Linked DNA regions of Homo sapiens: all the other regions are linked to region 1. The links come from fine-mapping of genetic effects on gene expression. A gene starts in region 1. Each other region holds a variant in brackets. All regions are shown on one strand. Distances are from middle to middle.

Region 1 (5,367 bases):
ATTACACTCCAACCTGGGTGACAGAGGGAGACTCTGTCTGAAAATAAATAAATAAATAAATAAAAAGAAAAAAGAAAAAAATACTGTGCCACCTACACTTAGTTACAAGCCTGCCTCCTTCACCTGCCAGGGTATACCTTCAGGGTCAGGGCTGTGACTATTCCTAGCTCCCAGGATGGTGTCTGGTACTTAAGGGGAGCCTAATAGGTGTTCATGGAAAAATTTACTGCCCAGGATGGGAGAGGGGGTTGTCACAATGTGTGGATGTGTGTGTGTGTGTGTGTGTGTGTGTGTGTGTGTGTTTGAGAGGAGCTGTATCTCATTTCAGCCAAGGAGGCTGAGGCCAGAGTCCAGGGCACAGACCATGGCAGGGCCTAGTCCAGCATCCCCAGTCCCACCCTGGTCCCCCTGAGGCTATGATTAACCCTTGTCCTCAGCACAAGGACAGAGCCTCATCTGCCAGCCAGTCTTGGCCATGTGGGGAAGTAGGTCAGGGGCTTCAGAATCCGGATAGCTGCTGCACATCAGGGCAAAGCCAGCCCTCTGGAGCCTTGTGGATGGAGACCAGGGTGTGGGCACACCACAGCAGGCCACAATGGCACAAACTGCAGCAGACTTATGTCCACACCCCCCAGCTTGCTGGAGGCCATGGGAAGGTCACTTCTCCCTGGACATGTTTCCTCGCCCCTTCCAGCTCTCACCATCCAAGAAGGAGGCATCTTAGGGGAGGAGAGGATAGAACTGACTCCACTCCAGCAGGCCTCCTCTTCCTTTCTGTCCCAACAGCCCCACCCCCCACTCCCAGTGATGTCATTTCGGCCACCTCATCACCAGCTTCTAACCCCCTTCCAGTCGCCCTTTCTGTCCTCAGATGGCAACTGGGGGCAGCGGAGATGTATCCCTCTTTATTCGGTCTCTCGCCTGGCACACTGGCCGGGATTCCCGAACCTGACCCCCTCCAAACCATGAGCCATTTGCAAGGGGACCGGGCAGGGGAGGGCTAAGCGACTCCTGACTCTCGAAGGCAGATGGGAGACTTGACTTTCTGCTTCTTCACCAGCAAAGACGCGGTACCACTTCTCCCTGAGTAGGAAGCGAGTTAGGGAAACTTTCTAGGAGTCTTAGAGCTCATAATTCCTGTCAGGGACGGGTGCTGCTGGATTTGGCGTGAGATAACTTCCCTCTACACACAAGCCACCCTCCCAGCAAAACATGACGAAGGAGCCGCCTCCCGGCCTCAGAAGACTCCTAGCTAGCGCTCAGGCCCCGTAACAATACCAGGGGCGGCCGAGCAGTTGCTGCCTCCAGGACGGGGTGGGCGAGCTGGATGACGGATGCCCGGTCGTCTGGGAAAATAGGAAGACCGCCCCCCGCCCCCCACTTTTGCAGGTCTCCGCCCGTCCGGTCCGCGTCTTCTCCGGCAGCGCCCCCTCTCTCCACGTCCCGGTTCTCCAGACGCGTCCCTCCTCCGAGTCGGGCGCGCCCGGTCCAGCCCAGCCCCTCCCGGGGTGATAGCGCCCAACAATGGAGAAGCGGACAGGGGTCACCGGGCGCTCCCCGCCTTCCTGTCCCGGTCGCCCCCGCGCTCACCCTGCTCCAGGTCCTGCTGGTCGTACCAGGACTCCTCTTCCTCCGCGGAGAAGTCCTCCATCCCGGCGGCTCTCCGCATGGCCCCGCGGGCGGCGGGCGGGTGCTGCGGCGGCGCAGCTCAGGGCCGGTGCGCGCGGCCCGGGACAATGCGGCTGAGGCGGGCCGGGCCTCCAGCGTCGGGAACTCGGGCTACAGAGCCCGCGCCGCGCCCCCTCGCCATCAACCGCTCGCCGGGAGCCCACGCGGGGCCTGGCGCTTTGCCAGGGTCCGGCCCGGCCGGGGTCCCGCAGAGCCGGGGGCACCGGGCTGCGGCGACACAAAGGGTGGAGTGGCAGGGACGGCGGGTGGGACAGTGGCAAGGAGGATCCGGGCCCGCAGGCGGGTCTGGGGCGCTAGGAGCGCGCGGGTGCCGTGGCGGGCGCCCCCTGCCCGGCTCGGGTCCGCGCTGCTCCTGGCCCGCCCGGCGACAACCGGAGCCGCCGCTGCATCTTGGCGGAGCCCGCCTGCAGCTTGCGGAGCTCGGCTCCGCGGGGTGGGGCCTGCCGCCGCCGACCAATCAGGAGATGTATGCAAAGCTGGAGGCGGGGCCGAGGGCGGGACCCTCCTGGTGTCTTGGTCTGGGAATTGCTTGATCAACCCTTTCGTCCTACTTCCCCCTACGACCTATTCAGTTTATGTCTCATGTCTAAAATTATGCTATTTTAGAAGTTGTCGTCTCTCCTAGATCTCCTGGAAGCAAGAATATTGTTTCTCTTTCACAGCTGGCTACTCACTTCCTAGAACAGGCTGCTCACCAGTCGGGCGCGATGCCTGACTCCTGTAATTCCAGCACCTTGGGAGGCCAAGGCGGGCAGATCGCCTGAGGTCAGGGGTTTCGAGACCAGCCTGGCCAACATGGCGAAACCCCGTCTCCATTAAAAATACAAAAATTAGCTGGGCATGGTGGCGCATGCCTACTCGGGAGGCTGAGGCAGGAGAATCGCTTGAACCCTGGAGGCAGAGGTTGCAGTGAGCCAAGATAGCGCCACTGCACTCCAGCCTGGGCGACAGAGGGAGACTCTGCCTCAAAAAACAAACAAACAAAAAACAAACAACATGCTGGTCATTGATACCTTCCATCGACATTCTTTGAATGAATGAATACTAATTTACAGTTGCCTTTGGGAACTGCGTGTTTAAGTGCTTGTGGCTAGAAACCACAGGCTGAAAGTGGCAAAGTTTGAGGGTGTGTTACCTGCATTCAAGGTTCTGTTTTCCTTTCCTTGGGACCCATATCCTATATCCAATTATACCCATTAAAACTATACACACTTGCATCTGTCCAAGCATTCTTTCCTTAGAAGAGTGTTCGGACTCAAGCATTCACGTAACTCATTTTTATTGGGACCCTAATGTGCTGGTGCCGTTGAGAATCTCTGAATAATGTTGTGATATACCCAACGAATGACTTGTATCCAGAATACAGAAAGAACATCTGCATAGTCATAAGAAAAAGGCACGCAACCCAGTAGAAAAGTGGGTAAAAGATTTGACCAGGTAATTCACAAAAAAGGATACACAAATAACTGAATAAATATGCAACAAGGTACTGAACTTCTTTAGCCATCAGAAAAATGCAAATGAAAACCACAATGAGGTATCACTACCCAATCACCAGAGTGGCTTTAGGGAAAAAAAAAAAAAAAAAAAAGGCCAGGCGTGGTGGTTCATGCCTATAATCCCAGAACTCTGGGGAGGCCGAGGTTGGGAGGATCACTTGAGCCTGGAGTTCAAGAGCAGCCTGGGCAACATAGCAAGATCCTATTTCTATAAAAAAATTTAAAAATAAAAATTAGGTGGGCATAATGACACACGGCTGTAGTCCCAGATACTTTGGGAGGCTGAGGTGGGAGAATTGCTTGAGTCTAGGAGGTTGAGGCTGTAGGGAGCTGTGGTCATGCCACTGCACTCCAGCCTGGGTGACAGAGCAAGATCCTGTCTCAAAAAAAAAAAAAAAAAAAAAAAAAAAAAGACAAAAAATACCTAGTATTGGCAAGAATGTTGAGCAACTGGAACTCTCTCACCCTGCTGGAGGGAATACATAGGACGACAACCACTTTAGAAAACTGCCCGGGCGTGGTGGCTCATGCCTGTAATTCCCAACGCTTTGGAAGGCCAAGGAGGGTGGATCGCTTGAGGTCAGGAGTTCAAGACCAGCCTGGGAAACATGGTGAAACCCTGTCTCTACTAAAAATACAAAATTAGCTGGGCATGGTGGCACATGCCTGTAGTCCTAGCTACTTGGGAGGCTGAGGCAGGAGAATTGCTTGAACCTGGGAGGCGGAAGTTGCAGTGAGCTGAGATTGCGCCACTGCACCCAGCCTGGGCGATAGAGCAAGACTGCGTCTTGGAAAAAAAAAAAAAAAAGACTGCTTGATAACCATGAAAGCTGAATAACGTAAGCTGTTGTAGGTTGTGTTCCCAGGCAGCTGATCCTGAGATGGAGATTAGCATGCAGGAAGTTGATTAGGGATATCAATCATATTGGATTAGAGGGAGAAAAAAGAAAGAAAGTTGACTAGGGAGTGCTCTCATGATCAACACCTGCAGGAAAGGGAGGGAAGCAGGGTTGGTGGGGGAGAAGCTGGGTTGGTATGTAGCCTCTGCAAAAGCCTCCTCTGATCCCTGAAGAACTTTGAATCCAGGGTGACCCTTCAAAGCTATTCCAGGTATCATTGGGGGAGGGGGCCTTTATATCCCCCACCCTTACATATCAACCAGTCATTGAATGACACAGGTCGTTCCTAGGAGGCATGTGTGACCTTGGCCAAATAAGTTCTTTTCAGCTGAGACTAGTTTGCACAGAGCCCTGGCAGCTGGGACTGCCAGCCAGGGGTCCTCCCAGCAGCTAAGGGAATAGGTCCTTTCGTTCTGAAAGAGTTGGGGATACATCACAGCAGCCACTATACATGCATACCCTATAACCCAGAAATTCTATTCCTATATATGTGCAAGAGAAATATGCACATACCTTATCCCAAAGACATGTACAAGAAAGTTCATAGCCACAGTATTCATAAGCGCCCACACTGGAAACAACACAAATGTCCATCAACAGTTGACGAAGAATATGTGGCATGTTCATGTAATGGAATGTTATATAGTACAAATACAATGATCTACTGTCATGGGCTTGGGCTAAAAAAAAAAAGTTGAGTGAAAGATGCCAGACACAAAGAGTAAATACCTGTATTTGTCTCTTATTGCTTCTGTAACAAATGACCCCAAATTTAATGGGCTTGAAACAACACAAATTTATTATTTTATAATTCTGTAGAAGTCTGACAAGGATCACTGGCTAAAGTCAAAGCATTGGTAGAAGCTGTGTTCCTTCTGGAGGTTCCAGGGGAGTATCTGTTTCCTTGTCTTTTGCACCTTCTAGAGGCCACCCCATAGTCCTTGGCTCATGGCCTCTTTGTCAATCTTCAAAGTCAGCAACAGAAGGTGGAGTCTTTTTCACATCCCATCACTCTTACCTTTTCCACCTCCCTCTTATAAAGGACTCTTCTGCTTAAACTGGGCACACTGAATAATACAGCATAATCTCCCTGTCTCAATGTCTTTAACTAAATCACATCTGCAAAGTCCCTTATGTTGGGCAAGGTAACATATTCAGAGATTCTGGGGGTTAGGATGTGGATATCTTTAGTGGTTATGATTCTATCACAGCACTGCATGATTCCATTTTATATAAAGTTCATGGCCAGGTGCAGTGGCTCACGCCTGTAATCCCAGCAC
Region 2 (5,000 bases), 31 kb before region 1:
TAGCCCCAGATGCCCAATCAGTGCTTTTCAAAGTGGTGAGAGGAGTTGGGAGCTCAACGGGAAGCCGAGCAGTTACACCAGCAGGCACTAGCCCGCAGGCCTCGGTCCCAGGTCAGCATCCTCTCCTCTTCCTAGAGTTTCTCCCAAGGCCGGCCTTGGACTCTCCCCTGCCCCTTCCTTACCTGTGTAGACTCTTGTCCACACAAATCAGTTTATAGCATCTTAGGGCATTTCCTGGTACCTGATTCTATGAAGTTTAACATCTTCTTTTGTTGGCTCCTTCGGTGTCTGGCTGGCCTCAGTGATCATGTCTCGAATTTTCTGCAGGCAATCTGCCAGATTCCGGAACTGATAGCGGCTGCTCTCAGAGGTGAGGATCAACTCTCCTAACCTGTTGATCTTGTTTTTATGCTGCAGAGAACAAATGAAAAACTGGAGTCCTACAGAGTAAAGGTTTAAAAGCCACTGAGGGATTTCTAGGGAAAGAAAGGGATGGTGGTTACCGTGATGGCTATCTTCTGCCGCACGGGCTCCGCGATCCACTCGGCAGTTGCCAAATGGAACCTGACTTCTGCCTTGGAATTCACTGTGGAGGAAAGGGAGAAGGGAGCATGGGTGCCTGAGACTTCCAGGAAGGATCAACCCCTGGGTGACCAGTGACCATTCTGAAATAAAGGGAGGCCAGACACCTAACCATGTACATTGTAGCCTATGTCCAAGTTGGCTATGAACAAGCCCGCAAAGACAGTGAGGCACTTTTGGGCAAAAATAGACTTCCAGTAACTAAGCACCCAGTCCTTCTCTTACAGTTTTACTGGGTTCAAAAAAAAAAAAAAAAAAAATGGAGGGAATGGGTTGCACCAGAATGAAAGAAACCTGTTCTTGGAGCTGGCTGCCACCTCACAACTGTGATTTCTCTTTGTTTAGACTCACAAGCCGATCCTAGTCCTAGCAACCCACAGCTGAATGTCTGAGAATCAGACCACATTCAAAAGAATAAAGAGGATTATTATAAGCTGGCAGTATTAAAGCTTCTGCTGAAAAATCCCTTTATTCCATATGAACACAAACACAGAGCTCCTCAAGCCCATCTCCCAGCTACATTTTAAAGCAAAAGAAAGCAACAAGGCACCCCGTACCTTTGTTCACATTCTGCCCCCCAGGACCACTACTCCGACAATAAGATATTGTCAAGCGATCTGTAAAACAGAAGAAAGTACACACACAAAACTGATTACCTCATGGCATGAAAAGCAGTCTTGTTGTGTCTGAGGAATGTAGGGAAGGTATTATATTGGGAAAATTTCAAAAACTGCAAGAAGTTTGGGTGGCAAGGAACTGTGGCACCACGGTGGCAGAGAGCTGGTCCCAGTGAGCAGTAGTGACTCATCTTGGGACTGCTTTTAAGAGGATTTCCTCCTTTGGAAAAATCAAATTAAATCCACTTTCTGACTAGGTAACAAGTACACGTGCCACTGCAGGGGAACAGTTCTGCCATGGTGATTGCTGGCAACCTTGCACATGGCCAAAGCTTGAGCTGCAGCTGACCAAAGTCTTCATAGGAATGGAACGCTTCGGGATCCATGAGAGTGTGGGAGGCTGGTGAGGAGCTACTACCGAGCTACTGCCCACTTGCCTGCCTGTCTCCCCCTAGGAGGCTGTCACAAGACACTTCTCTTCGCCTCCAGTTCTGATGAGATAGGAGGCTTTCTGCCTCCTCCCCTACACACATGCACCCCTTAGGGCACAGCTTCATTTTTTTTTTTTTTGAGACAGGGTCTCACTCTGGCACCCAGGCTGGAGTCCAGTGGCACAATGACGGCTCACTGCAGCCTCAACATCCCAGGCTGAAGCGAACATCCCGGGCTCAAGGGATCCTTCCACCTCAGCCTCTCAAGTAGCTGAGACTACAGGCGGGCACAGCTTCAAGCTACAAAACTGCTTCACTGCAGCATGGTATTCGCTCCTCAGCCACAGGGTGTCCTGTCCCTTGGGTTGTGGTCATCTGGCCTCTGTTTGAGTCATCTTGAGCAAGGGCCACAGGGAGCCAGCA[T/C]CTTTGGCTGCTCTTCCTCGCACTGTCTATGGAAGTCATACACTCTCCGAATCTAAAAAAGGCTCATTGTTTCTTTACAGGCTGTAACTGTTAGGCCTTGCTTATGCTTGACAGGTAAAAAATTTTACAGTTATGTAAATGGTTTATTTACATGGAAATGTCTTTCACTCTTGTCTCTCAGCCACCAAGTTTGTCTTATCTCTCTATTCCTCCAGGCAGTCACTGTATCCAGGGTGTTCCTTTCAGATATAGATATCTCTCTACACAGATAGGGATATAAATATAGATACAGATATTCAGAAATAGATATTTCAGGCTGGGCACGGTGGCTCACACCTGTAATCCCAGCACTTTGGGAGGCTGAGGTGTGCAGATCATGAGGTCAGGAGATCGAGACCATCCTGGCTAACATGGTGAAACCCCGTCTCTACTAAAAAATACAAAAAATTAGCCGGGCGTGGTGGTGGGAACCTGTAGTCCCAGCTACTCGGGAGGCTGAGGCAGGAGAATGGTGTGAACCTGGGAGGCGGAACTTGCAGTGAGCCGAGATCGGGCCACTGCACTCCAGCCTGGGTGACAGAGCGAGACTCCATCTCAAAGAAAAAAAAAAAAGATATTTCAGAGATATAGATATGTAAAAAACAAATGGTAGCTTATAAACTCTCCTGTGTCTTCCTCTTTCAATTCATCTATTGTAAAGAGTGCTCCACGTCATGAGAATGTCAAGAGCTCTACACTCACGTGGCACACGGCACAGTACGATGCGACTGGCCACACCATCATTTATTTGCTATTCTAAATAATGCTGCAAAGATTCTACTTCTGCACACCCGAGATAGTCTCTTTACTTTAATTGGGCTGGAGAGATCTGGAAGGAATGTGTGAAGGATTAGAGAAATGACTGATTTTTTTTTTTTCGTCTGAGACAGAGTCTCGCTGTGTCGCCCAGGCTGGAGTGCAGTGGTGCGATCTCAACTCACCACAACCTCTGCTTCCCAGGCTCAAGTGATTCTTGTGCCTCAGCCTTCCGAGTAGCTGGGATCACAGGCGCCCACCACCACACCCGGCTAATTTTTGTATTTTTATTTATTTATTTTTGAGACAGAGTCTTACTCTGTTGCCCAGGCTGGAGTGCAATGGCAGGATCTCAGCTCACTGCAACCTCTGCCTTCCGGGTTCAAGCAATTCTTCTGCCTCAGCCTCCCAAGTAGCTGGGATTACAGGCCCTCGCCACCACACCCGGCTAATTTTGTATTTTTAGTAGAGATGGGGCTTTGCCATGTTGGCCAGGCTAGTCTTGAACTCCTGACCTCGGATGATCCAGCTGCCTTGGCCTCCCAAAATGTTGGAATTATAGGCGTGAGCCACTGCGCCTGGCCTAATTTTTGTATTTTTAGTAGAGATGGGGTTTCACCATGTTGGCCATGCTGGTCTCAAACTCCTGGCCTCAAGTGATCTACCCACCTTGGCCTCCCATATTGTTGGGATTACAGGTATGAGACACCATGCCCGGCCAACAGGCATGATTTTTTTTTTTTAATTTTTAATTTTTTCCAGATAGAGTTTTGCTCTCGTTGCCCAGGCTGGAGTGCAATGGCACAAACTCGGCCCACTGCAACCTCCACCTCCTGGGTTCAAGCGATTCTCCTGCCTCAGCCTCCCAAGTAACTGGGATTACAGGCACATGCCACCACGCAGCCAACTGATTTTTAAGAAAACAAAATTACTTACCTAGAGGGATGTCACTGTCGGCTTGCTTTGCACCATTCTGTAATGTAATGTACACAGTGTCAAATAAATATTACCTGCTGGGTGACTCCTAACTGGTTCAAGGCAACAAAGAAATGATGTAAAGCCACAACACAAACATTGTACATTAGTATTTTCAGGTCCCCTGCAAAATGATATCACGATGACAGAAAAAGCATCCTCAGACTCCAGAGGTACCACCTCAGAAACACTCCTCTACGAAAATGGATCTGATGTCTCCAGCCTTCCCTGCCCTAGCCTTAGCTAGTGTCAGGCACCATCAGAGGCCTGGCTCCAGCGGGAGGGGGAGCCACAGTGCACATGCATCAGGGAACCTCCAAAAGCAACACCCTCTGTCAACCTGGAGCAACAAGCCTGGTGGGCCACCCTGTTCTTTCCGGGGCCACAGGAGACTCCCACACAAGGCAGTCCACCTTGGACAGTGACTATAATTGCACCCTGAGGGTTTCTGTCAAACTAACTACTCACTCCAGGACTTCTCACCTCCATGTCTCTCTCTCTCTTGCTGTTCCTCAAGCAGCAACGCCCTTCAGCCTTAAATCTTTGTATCCACAAGGCCCAGTGCAAACGCCACCCACTCCGAGGCTTTTCTGGCCCTCCAGGCTCAAAGCATCAGTATCCTCAGGTGCACTCCCGACTGCCTTCATTTCTTTTTTTTTTGAGATGGAGTCTCGCTCTGTAGCCCAGGCTGGAGTACAATAGTGCGATCTCAGCTCACTGCAACCTCCGCCTCTTGGGTTCAAGTGATTCTCCTGCCTCAGCCTCCTGAGTAGCTGGGATTACAGGCGCATGCCACCATGCCTAGCTATTGTTGTTTTTTTTTTTTGTATTTTTAGTAGAGATGGGGTTTCACCATGTTGGCCAGACTGGTTTCGAGCTCCTGACCTCAAGAGAGCTGCCCGCCTTGGCCTCCCAAAGTGCTAAGATTACAGGCGTGAGCCACCACGCCCAGCCTGTCTTCATTTCTTTTATCTTAGAATTATTTGGGAGTTGGCCGGGTGCAGTGGCTCACGCCGTAATCCCAGCACTTTGGGAGGCCGAGACGGGTGGATCACTTCAAGTCAGGAGTTGGAGACCAGCCTGGACAACATGGTGAAACCTCCCCTCTACTAAAAATACAAAATTAGCTAGGCATGGTGGCACACACCTGTAATCCTAGCTACTGGGGGAGGCTGAG
Region 3 (5,367 bases), 66 kb before region 1:
CCTCAAGTGATCTGCCCTCCTCAGCCTCCCAGAGTGCTGGGATTACAGGCGTGAGCCACCATACCTGGCCTAGAGCCAGAAAACTTTGATATATGAAATCTAACATAGAAAGACCAAGGCATTATTTTTTACTTTTAAAAGTAAACTTATGCCAGGCATGGTGCCTCATGCCTGTAATCCCAGCACTTTGGGAGGCTGAGGCAAGTGGATCACTTGAGGCCTGAAGTTCAAGACCAGCCTGGTCAATATGGCGAAACACCATCTCTACTAAAAATACAAAAATTAGCCAGGCATTGTGGCACACACCTGTAATCACAGCTACTCAGGTGGCTGAGACATGAGAATCGCTTGAACCTGGGAGGCAGAGGTTGCAGTAAGCCGAGATCATGCCACTGCACTCCTGCCTGGGTGACAGAGGAAAACTCTGCCTCAAAAAAAGAAGAAAAAAGAATAATTTTCCTGCCTTCTTAATGGCAGGAAAATTCTGTGCTGCAATAGATTATACCTAAAGCATCTACTACCAGTATCTGATGGGAAAAGAGGCAATTATGCTACAACACAGGTAGTCATGGTGGAGCACGACTCTGCCTTCTTACTGTTAACTCTGTAGTTGCAGTTTCTTAAAACAGTCTAATCGCATGAAAGAGAGGGTCTATTTTCCTGGCTATACTTCAAGCTTCTTTTTTTTTTTTTTGAGATGGAGTCTCCCTCTGTCGCCCAGGCTGGAGTGGTGCAGTGGTGCGATCTTGGCTCACTACAAGCTCCGCCTCCTGGGTTCACACCATTCTCCTGCTTCAGCCTCCCGAGCAGCTGGGACTACAGGCACCCATCACCATGCCTGGCTAATTTTTTTTGTATTTTTAGTAGAGACGGGGTTTCACCGTGTTAGCCAGGATGGTCTCGATCTCCTGACCTCATGATCTGCCCGTCTCGGCCTCCCAAAGTGCTGGGATTACAGGCGTGAGCCACCGCGCCCGGCCGACTTCAAGCTTCTTGAGGGCAAGGACTTTCAATTACTTACAGAATCCCAAGGGCCAAATAGAAGCTATTATGGCCATTCAAACACACGACAAACATATGACGAATGGCAGGATGTGAAATAGATGTGCCGTAACATCTTTCTTTCCTCTAACTAGGTGGGCAAATTCCCTTTCGCTCTTGTTACTGTATCTGAGTTAATATCAAAATCAAGGCCAGGTGCGGTAGCTCACACCTGTAATTCCAGAACTTTGGGAGGATGAGGTGGGCGGGTTGCTTGAGTTCAGGAGTTTGAGACCAGCCTGGCCAACAAGGCTCGTTTCTACCCAAAATACAAAAAATTAGCCAGGTGTGGTAGCTTGCAGCTGTAGTCCCAGCTACTCGGTAGGCTGAGGTAGGAAAATCACCTGAGCCTGGGAAGCCAAGGCTGCAGTGAGCTGTGATCACGCCACTGCACTCCAACCTGGGCAACGGGAGTGAGACCTTGTCCTCCCTCTCCCCGCCAAAATCAAGACACCATCATAAAGAGCAGCTTGATATTATGTTCTTAGAAGCATGGTTCAGGCTGGGTGTGGTGGCTCACTCCTGTAATCCTAGCACTTTGGGAGGCCAGCCTGGGGGAGAGAGTGAGACTCTGTCTCAAAAAAAAAAAAAAAAAAAAAAAAAAGCATGGTTCACAAGCAGCTGCTGAAGCGTACCCCATGAGACTGGTTTCAAGTGGCTCACAGGAGCTGCATGTGACTCGATCACATGCTAAAGGCTCATCTCCATAAAGAGTGGCCAAGCTGGGCGCAGTGCCTCACGCCTGTAATCCCAGCACTTTGGGAGGCTGAGGCGGGCAGATCACCTGAGGTCGGGAGTTCGAGACCAGCCTGACCAACATGGTGAAACCCCATCTCTACTAAAAAAATACAAAAATTAGTCAGGCGTGGTGGCACACACCTGTAGTCCCAGCTACACGGGAGGCTGAGGCAGGAGAATTACTTGAACCTGGGAGGCAGAGGTTGCAGTGAGCCGAGATTGCACCACTGCACTCCGGCCTGGGCGACAGGGCGAGACTCCATCTCATAAAAAAAAAAAGAGCGGCCAACGGGTGCAACCAAGACCTCTATGGTCTTTAGGAGGGAGACATACTCGGGCAGAGAACAGGTTTTAGACCTAAAGTGCCCTGGGCGCCTCCTCC[C/T]GCCATCTGGTAAGCAGCGACAATCTTCTCATTCTATTGGGACATAGGCCTATTCTGTTTTCTTTGTGGTTTCTTCTTTTCTCCTGTGCAGTTTGGCTGAGTGTGCATTCCCTGCACTGCAAACGGTGTTCCACACACACCTCCAGCTCTAAGGGTAAAGGCATCCTTTTCAAATCACAGACCGACCGACAGAAGCCCACTTGAAACAACCCTCCTTAACAGTTCCAAATACATTACTTGTGAAGTTCTGTTCTCATTGTCCCGTATCCTTTCCTTAACCAGCCGCACAAGGGACGCGATGTTGTAAAACTCCGCTTCCTCCAGCACACCTGGAACAAGGACAAAACTGCAGTCAGATAGGTGCGAGGGTTTGCCAGAAAAACACCAAGGAGAGGATGAAGGTTACATGCTTGCTAAAAACTGCTTATTTATTTATTTACTTATTTTTTGAGACGGAGTCTTACTCTGTCGCCCAGGCTGGAGTTCAGTGGTGCGATCTTGGCTCACGGCAACCTCCGCCTCCTGCGTTCAAATGATTCTCTTGCCTCAGTCTCCCAAGTAGCTGGGACTACAGGCACATACCACCACACCCGGCTGTTTCTATTTTTTCCCCCCGCCCGAAACAGAGTTTCATTCTTGTTGCCCAGGTTGGAGTGCAATGGCATGATCTTGGCTCACTGCAAACTCCGCCTGCTGGGTTCAAGAGATTCTGCTGCCTCAGCCTTCCAAGTAGCTGGGATTACAGGCGCTTGCCACCACGCCTGGCTAATTTTTTGTATTTTTAGTAGAGACAGGGTTTCATCATGTTGGTCAGGCTGGTCTTGAACTCCTGACCTCAGGTGATCCATCTGCCTTGGCCTCCCAAAGTTCTGGGATTACAGGCGTAAAGCCACCGCACCCAGCCAATTTTTGTATTTTTCGCAGAGACGGGGTTTTGCCATGTTGGCCAGGCTGGTCTCAAACTCCTAACCTCAAGTGATCCGCCCACCTTGGCCTTCCAAGTGTTGGGATTACAGGCATGAGCCACAGCTCCTGGCCTAAAAACTGCATTATTTAAATGCAAATCCAATCTCTCTCCTTCTGCTAGGAAATATCTCTTTGCTATTTTCGGTAAACCCATGACCTTTTCTCCAACATAAATTAGTCAAACGCCAGGGTATGTTCTGCTCACTCCATTTCAACCCTCCTTTCCCTACCTGGCACCTGCCCATTAGCTGCAGGACACTTTTCCCATATGTCACTTAGTTCCTGGAACTAGTCATGTTGGACACCTCCTGAACTTGATATTTTTGTCCAATCTGCCCTCAAAAGGACTGGGGGTGGGGGTGGAGGTGTGTGTACAAATTTATGTGGGCCAAACTTAATAGGATGCTAATCATTTGAACAATATAAAAGGCAACCATTTAAAGACTTGCATGCTAAATGAACTCAAAGGCCTTAGGGCAACTATGAGACGTGTGATCCTATAGGAATAAATTTGCTATAAAGGCCATTATTAGGACAACTGACAAAACTGCAATATAAGCTGTAGATAAAAGCATCAGTATTAAATTTCCTGAGTTTGATAACTGTACTGTCTGTGGTTACATAAAACAGTATCCTTGTTCTTGGGAAATATATACAAATATTAAGGGGTGAAATCTGCAATCTATTCTCAAATAGTTCAGAAATAACTGTGGTGGGAGAGGCAAGAGGATGGGGGTAGGGAGGGGGAAATAGAGAATGAAGGACAATGCAAATATGATTTAAAAAAAAAAAAGGTCGGGCATGGTGGCTCACGCCTGTAATCGCAGCATTTCGGGAGGCCAAGGCGGGTGGATCACGAGGTCAGGAGTTCAAGACCAGCCTGACCAACATGGTGAAACCCCCGTCTCTACCAAAAATAAAAAAATTAGCCAGGCGTGGTGGCATGCACCTGTAATCCCAGGTACTCAGGAGGCTGAGGCAGGAAAATCGCTTGAACCCGGGAGGTGGATGTCGCAGTGAGCTGTGATAGTGCCATTGCACTCCAGCCTGGGCAACAGAGGGAGACTCTGTCGCCAAAAAAAAAAAAAAAAAAAAAAAAGGTCGGGCGCGGTGGCTCATGTCTGTAATCCCAGTACTTTGGGAGGCTGAGGCAGGCAGATCACAAGGTCAGGAGATCGAGATGAGACCATCCTGGCTAATATGGTGAAACCCTGTCTCTACTAAAAATACAAAAAATTAACTGGGTGTGGTGGTGGGCGCCTATAGTCCCAGCTACTCGGGAGGCTGAGGCAGGAGAATGACGTGAACCTGGGAGGTGGAGCTTGCAGTGAGCCGAGATTGCGCCACTGCACTCCAGCCTGGGCAACAGAGCAAGACTCCGTCTCAAAAAAAAAAAAAAAGCTGGGCATGATGGCTCATGCCTATAATCGCAGCTACTCAGGAGGCTGAGGCAGGAGGAGCATGTGAGGCCAGACATTTGAGACCAGCCTGGGCAAGATAAGATAGACTCTGACTCTTAAAAAAACAACAAAAAGATCTCCCCATACCCCAAATATGACAAAAATAACATTGAAAATTGGTTAATCTGGGATATAGGGAGTTCTCTGTGTTATTCTTGCTCTTTTCTTGCTTATTTTGAAGTTTTAAATTACTTCAAAATAAAGTTTTTTTAATTAAAGGCATTAGAAAAGATACTTAACTAAAAGAGGGTAATTGAATTTTTGTATCACAAAGGATAAATGCTTGAGGGGATGGATACCCCATTCTCCATGATGTGCTTATTTCACACTGCATGCCTATATCCAAACATCTCAGGTCGGGCGCGGAGGCTCAGGCCTGTAATCCCAGCACTCTGGGAGGCTGAGGCAGGTGGATCACTTGAGGTTAGGAGTTCAAGACCAGCCTGGTCAACATGGTGAAACCCTGTCTCTACTAAAAATACAAAAAATTAGTCAAGCATGGTGGTGCACGCCTGTAATCCCAGCTACTTGGGAGGCTGAGGCAGGAGAATCGCTTGAACCCAGGAGGCTGAGGTTGCAGTGAGTCAAGATTGTGCCAGTGCACTCCAGCCTGAGCGAAGAAAAAAAAAAGAAAAATCTCATGTACCCCATAAATATATACACCTACTAGGTACTTACAAAAATTAAAAAAGAAAAATAAATAAGATTAAGATCACCCATGAGTTGGTAATTGTTGAAGCTGGATAGTGGATGCAAGGAATTCACTGTATGTACTATTCC
Region 4 (5,367 bases), 48 kb before region 1:
GCCCAGGCTGGAGTGCAGTGGGACGATCTCGGCTCACTGCAACCTTTACCTCATGGGTTCATGCCATTCTCCTGCCTTAGCCTCCTGAGTAGCTCGGACTACAGGTGCCCGCCATCACGCCCGGCTAATTTGTTTTATTTTTAGTAGAGACGGGGTTTCACCATGTTAGCCAGGATGGTCTCGATCTCCTGACCTTGTGATCCGCCCGCCTCAGCCTCCCAAAGTGCTGGGATTACAGGCGTGGGCCACTGCATCCAGCCTGAACATGGAGAATTATTTTAACTTAATTTTTAAAATCCCCACTATTTACTATGGTTAGCAGACCTGAGCAACGTCAGGCAATAGAGATGGTTTAAAGCAAGGTAGTAGATCATAGAGTAATGCAAGTATTTAAAGAAAAAAGTATGGTGGTAGAAAGAATTGTCCTTAAAGTCAGAGGACCTGTTATGCCTACAACCCAATTGCTGATTTTAGATTGTTTACTGTCTTGAGAATTTAATTTTCTCATTTACAAATATCAGGATTGTAATGAGAATTAAATGAGATAACCTGGGAAGTTTCTAGGTAAGAAAGTAAGCAAAGGCTGACTTGATGTGGCTTAAATCCTGTAGGAAAAGTCTGCATGGTCTACGCAGGGGAGACTTGTGACATTTCTGCCATTTCTTTTTTTTTTTTTTTTTTTCTGATATGGAATCTTGCTTTGTCGCCCAGGCTGGAGTGCAGTGGCACGATTTCTGCTCATTGCAACCTTTGCCTCCCGGGTTCACACCATTCTCCTGCCTCAGCCTCCAGAGTAGCTGGGAGTACAGGCGCCCGCCACCACGCCCCGCTCATTTTTTGTATTTTTAGTAGAGACGGGGTTTCATCGTGTTAGGCAGGACGGTCTCGATCTCCTGACCTCGTGATCTGCCCGCCTTGGCCTCCCAAAGTGCTGGGGTTTCAGGCGTGAGCCACCGCACCTGGCCCATTTTTGCAGGCGGAGTATATTGGAGAAGAGCAACAATGCCTGACAACCCTCGAGAAATCAGCGTAGTCTTAACATAAGCAGAGGAGAGCCTGGGTGCATGGCTCCTGATTGGTAGGAGTAAGGCCGGGTTGAAGATGAAAGGCAGCGGAGGGGCGGAGTCTACTCCCCCCAAAACTGCTTGAGTCAACAAGAAGACTGGGCAGAGATGAGGAGCGGTAGCTGTGCAAGGCCTTTAATGTGCGTAACAGAAGTACCACACCCTTCCCCTGCGAGACTGCAGTCACTGAACTGGCACTCAGCCATCCCGCTGAGGATCTGAGGATGCAGACGACAGCCAAGTGAAAGCGCAGGGATGTGAGAAAAAATGCAGTTTACTTGGAGCATAGTTAGAGCTCGCGCTGTTCAAGGAGAGCACCGCTGAGCCCCGTGAAGGTGTTGGGATGTGAAGGGGGCAACCCCAGCATTAGGGGGAGCCCTTTGGGAGATTCCCTGTGCTAAATAACAGTGAACAAACAACTGGGAACAGGCTCAGCTAAAGGCACGTGGGTGGGAAGGGGGTACTTTTATTTTTTATGCCCTCTTGGATTGTTCAGCATTTTTGCGTTGTACATGCATTAATTTTACATTAAAAAGGTAATTGGGCAGGGCGCGGTGGCTCACGCCTGTAATCACAACACTTCGGGAGGCCGAGGTGAGCGGATCACTAGGTCAGGAAATTGAGACCATCCTGGCTAACACGGTGAAACCCCGTCTATACTAAAAATACAAAAAATTAGCCAGTGTGGTGGCGGGCGCCTGTAGCCCCAGCTTGTTTGTCTGCTGCAGACAAAACTCCATTCCCTGGCCGGGCCCAGTGGCTCACGCCTGTAATCTCAACACTTTGGGAGGATGAGGCAGGAGAATGGCGTGAACCCAGGAGGTGGAGCTTGAAGTGAGCCGAGATCACGCTACTGCACTCCACCCTGGGTGACAGAGCGAGACTCCGTCTCAGGGAAGAAGAAAAAGAAAAAAAAAATTAGCATTTATTCTCCCCTATGTCCAAGTACACTTGCACACACATGCATCCTGACACCCTCTTCCTCCAAGCACAGAGTAGTGGGGTGGTGGGTGCCGTGTGAGTGTGGACAGAGCCCACTAGCAGGACTGAGGCCACAGAGTTGGGCAGCACCCCCACTGCCCTTGAGGCTAGGGACTGGAGTTTTTTGTTTGTTTGTTTGTTTGTTTGTTTTGAGACGGCTTTCGCTCTGTTGCCCAGGCTGGAGTGCAGTGGCGCGATCACGGCTCACTGCAACCTCGGCCTCCTGGATTCAAGCGATTCTCCTGCTGCCTCCGCCTCCTGAGTAGCTGGGTTTACAGGCGCGTGCCACCACGATTGGCCGGCTAATTTTTGTATTTTTGTATTTTTAGTAGAGACGGGGTTTCACCATGTTGGTCAGGCGGGTCTCGAACTTTGACCTCGTGATCCGCCCGCCTCAGCCTCCCAAAGTGTTGGGATTACAGGCGTGAGCCATTGGGCCCGGCCAGAGACTGGAGTTTTGTCTGCTGTTTAACTTCATAACGATAGACTGAAACATAACCCGCTCCGTGTCATTTGCTTGTGGGATTGTAGCTTGTAGAGCACGTTTACGAGGCGAATGTTTGGATGTTGAACTCGTTCCAGGTACCAGCTCAAGAGAGACAACAAGAAATGGGGCCCTACTTACCCTGGCTGCATAATGACGCCATAACCGGAAGCGTCCCGGGATGCAAAGCCTGATTGGACAGAAGCAGCTCCCCAGCTTCGGATCCCGGGAGCCGCGGTGTGGAGGGATTGGGAGGCGTTTCTGGGTCTAAAACAAGGGAGGGAAGATTATAGTTGCAGGGATTAAAAC[G/A]TTCCGACCACGAAGGGACTCGAACCCTCAATCTTCTGATCCGAAGTCAGACGCCTTATCCATTAGGCCACGCGGTCTCCGGCTGCAGCTACCTCCTAGAGAGGCCAATTTGATGGCCATTAAACGCTCCGGCGTGCCGCAGCTTCACTGCTCGCACCCTGGCCGCCTGTTGAGCGAAGCGCTCACCCTTCCTCTGGCCCCAGCCGCCCGCCTAGTCACCCCCGAGCGGAGCGGCACCTGGACTAGTCTCTGAGCCTCCCTGGGAATTGCGACCGCGTGGCCTAAGGGATGAGGCGTCTGACGTCAGATCATAAGATTGAGGGTTCCTTTGTGGTCGGGCTCTTTTGGAGCGAGCAGCCCTTGCCCGAATCCCAGCATAGTTTGAGGGTTTGTTCTTCCCTCCGCCCTCGTCCATCCCTATTCCTCCCAGCTATGCTCCACCGGCCTCTGCGCTCGCCGAGCACTTCTTCTCGGGGTTACAGGGCACCGCGGGCTCCTGGTCCCCGCGCGTCGTCACCGCATGGAGCTCTTGTGTAGCCCGGTGGGGACGCCGCGCCCAGCCAGCGGTTCATCCTGTCGTCCCCATGGCTTCTCAGGCTTGGAGCGCGGTGACCCACAGCAGGGCCGTGTTTGGGCACTATGGTTGAACACCTATCAAGGAGCACGTGGGTTTAGCGTCTTACCGCGCCCCAGTGGCCTAATGGATAAGGCACTGGCCTCCTAAGCCAGGGATTGTGGGTTCGAGTCCCACCTGGGGTGTCGAGAGGGGCTGTGCTCGCAAGGTTTCTTTTGGTGCCGGCAGCCAGAGACCTCAGAATCCACCACCACCTGCCCGCTACCTGCTTGCCTCTGCCCTGTTTGCGCCCCTCGCCTTCTCTTGCAGGACCCTCTGTTTGCAGTCGCGGTGGTCATTTACCTCTGGTTCTCCGGGGCTGCCCCGCCAGGTGGAGCTGGGGTGTCCTGGGAACCCTTTGGGCAACTTTATTCTTACGAGTTTCCCCAGCTTCGAAATTGTGGGGCCCTACCCGGACGAAAGCTGTTCATTCAAGGGCTTGGCAAGACCCGAGCTTACCGGCTTTAGGCGCTTGGAGGAGGTGGCTCCTCCTCAACACGTTGCACGGGAGTCGAACTAGAGACCAAGGTCGATTCCAGCATCCCTGAGAAGGGAAGAGAAAAGAAATAAAAAATTCCGTAAAAGGAACTTTCACCTCTACCCCAGGTGGGACTCGAACCCACAATCCCTGGCTTAGGAGGCCAGTGCCTTATCCATTAGGCCACTGGGGCTTGGGGCACGTGGCCGTGCCATCCCTTCCCCTCATAAGCGAGTGTCCCCTTTTCCTAGAGAAGGCCTGACAGAGGCGCGATCCATGGAGTGGGTCCGTCCCTGCCGCGCGCACTTTTGGTGAGCGGGCGGGAAGATACCGCGGTGCGCAGGGACCTGCCCCCATCCTTACTTAGCGAGCACCAGCCCCCAGCCCCCGGCACTGGGACGCCCCATGGAGCCCCGAGGGTCCGCTTGGTGGTTGCCTGGACACCCGGACCATGGGGTATGAAGACTGAGGTTTGGAGGAGTTTCCTTCCTACCGCCCTGAGCCTTGCTGTCCGCCTCTACAGAACTGATAAAAAATCCAGGAATTTTAGGAAAAAGTAGCGTAGGAAGTGAAGGAGAACAGACAAGTATTAATCATGAATATTGAAACATAAACACTGAAAATCTTGCTTATCATGAGGGAATGTACAACCAGGGGGAACAAGTTCTTCCAGTTGTAATAGTAGAAATATATATATACTAGATACTACAAGTATAGATAGAAAGGAAAATCAGCCAAGTAGATATTTCACCCTAATTCTAACAAAGAATAAGCACATTTTAAAATGTTACACACATTTAAAATCCATTATTAAAGGCTACAGACCGGGTGCGGTGGCTCACGCCTGTAATCCCAGCATCCCAGCACTTTGGGAGGGTGAGGTGGGGGGATTGCTTGAGCCCAGGAGTTCAAAACCAGCCTGGGCAACATAGCGAGATGCAGTCTCATTTGAAAAAAAGAAAAAAAAGAAAAAAAATTATTAAATAAAAGTCTACTCACATCCGAAGGATTTAACAGAAGAAGTTCAGCCAAGGGCAGCGTCGGTTACCATTGTGCTTCTCTTGGGACCTTGCCAATCTGCCCCAGCATCGCAGGGCAAAGGAGACTTGGGGACATTCTTTTCTGTTTCTCTCCAAAATGTAGAGTCTGCAGAAACCTGTCTCCTCCCCTTAATAGCAGCAAGAAGGATTTAACCCACTTGGCTCCAGTTTACTGCCTTGAGGATGCCCCCCTTTAAGTTAACTAACTTGTCCGTTGCTGGGATCCAGCACTCTGCCCCAGGGCCAACCTGCAGGGATGCCTTCTCTGCTTTCCTGCTGCCGCCCTCTAGCTAGGCATGTTCCCCCAACCCGCCCGCCCGGGGCTCAGCCTTGCCTTGCTCAGCTGTTCCTATTCGTCCCCAGGGTCCTCTTGTCTCCCTGGGTCTTGGATCTTACAG

The links. PIP is the estimated chance that this variant, and not a neighbour inherited with it, causes the effect. A credible set is the group of variants that fine-mapping cannot tell apart.
Region 2: its variant is the best candidate, but not a certain one, in a credible set for the expression of CDR2L in lung (GTEx, PIP 0.53).
Region 3: its variant is the best candidate, but not a certain one, in a credible set for the expression of CDR2L in unexposed skin (GTEx, PIP 0.53).
Region 4: its variant is the best candidate, but not a certain one, in a credible set for the expression of CDR2L in unexposed skin (GTEx, PIP 0.50).

What each region holds. Positions count from the first base shown.
Region 1 is chr17:74,984,346-74,989,712 of GRCh38, reverse strand. CDR2L (cerebellar degeneration related protein 2 like) reads right to left here and starts at 2,081. Exons shown (of 5, transcript NM_014603.3): 1 at 1,591-2,081. The coding sequence starts at 1,669. LOC124904058 (a long non-coding RNA gene) reads right to left here. Exons shown (of 2, transcript XR_007065906.1): 2 at 4,864-5,367. RefSeq lists silencers at 1,986-2,075, 2,096-2,175 and an enhancer at 1,742-2,243.
Region 2 is chr17:75,015,899-75,020,898 of GRCh38, reverse strand. It overlaps MRPL58 (mitochondrial ribosomal protein L58), which reads right to left. Exons shown (of 6, transcript NM_001545.3): 2 at 3,785-3,821; 3 at 1,140-1,199; 4 at 504-586; 5 at 242-411. Among named protein-coding and RNA genes, the nearest start is that of MRPL58, 5.7 kb to the right of the region's middle. RefSeq lists an enhancer at 1-1,071. The variant T/C (reference allele first, on the strand shown) is at 2,054.
Region 3 is chr17:75,050,137-75,055,503 of GRCh38, reverse strand. It overlaps KCTD2 (potassium channel tetramerization domain containing 2), which reads right to left. Exons shown (of 6, transcript NM_015353.3): 3 at 2,399-2,490. Among named protein-coding and RNA genes, the nearest start is that of KCTD2, 5.6 kb to the right of the region's middle. The variant C/T (reference allele first, on the strand shown) is at 2,162.
Region 4 is chr17:75,032,661-75,038,027 of GRCh38, reverse strand. TRR-CCT1-1 (tRNA-Arg (anticodon CCT) 1-1) reads right to left here and starts at 4,122; the gene lies at 4,050-4,122. It overlaps TRR-CCT2-1 (tRNA-Arg (anticodon CCT) 2-1), which reads left to right and starts at 3,525; the gene lies at 3,525-3,597. It overlaps TRR-TCG3-1 (tRNA-Arg (anticodon TCG) 3-1), which reads right to left and starts at 2,915; the gene lies at 2,843-2,915. It also overlaps a transcript of KCTD2 not described here. RefSeq lists silencers at 2,092-2,251, 2,743-2,872, 3,433-3,602 and enhancers at 3,243-3,312, 3,763-3,832, 3,863-3,942, 3,339-4,320. The variant G/A (reference allele first, on the strand shown) is at 2,839.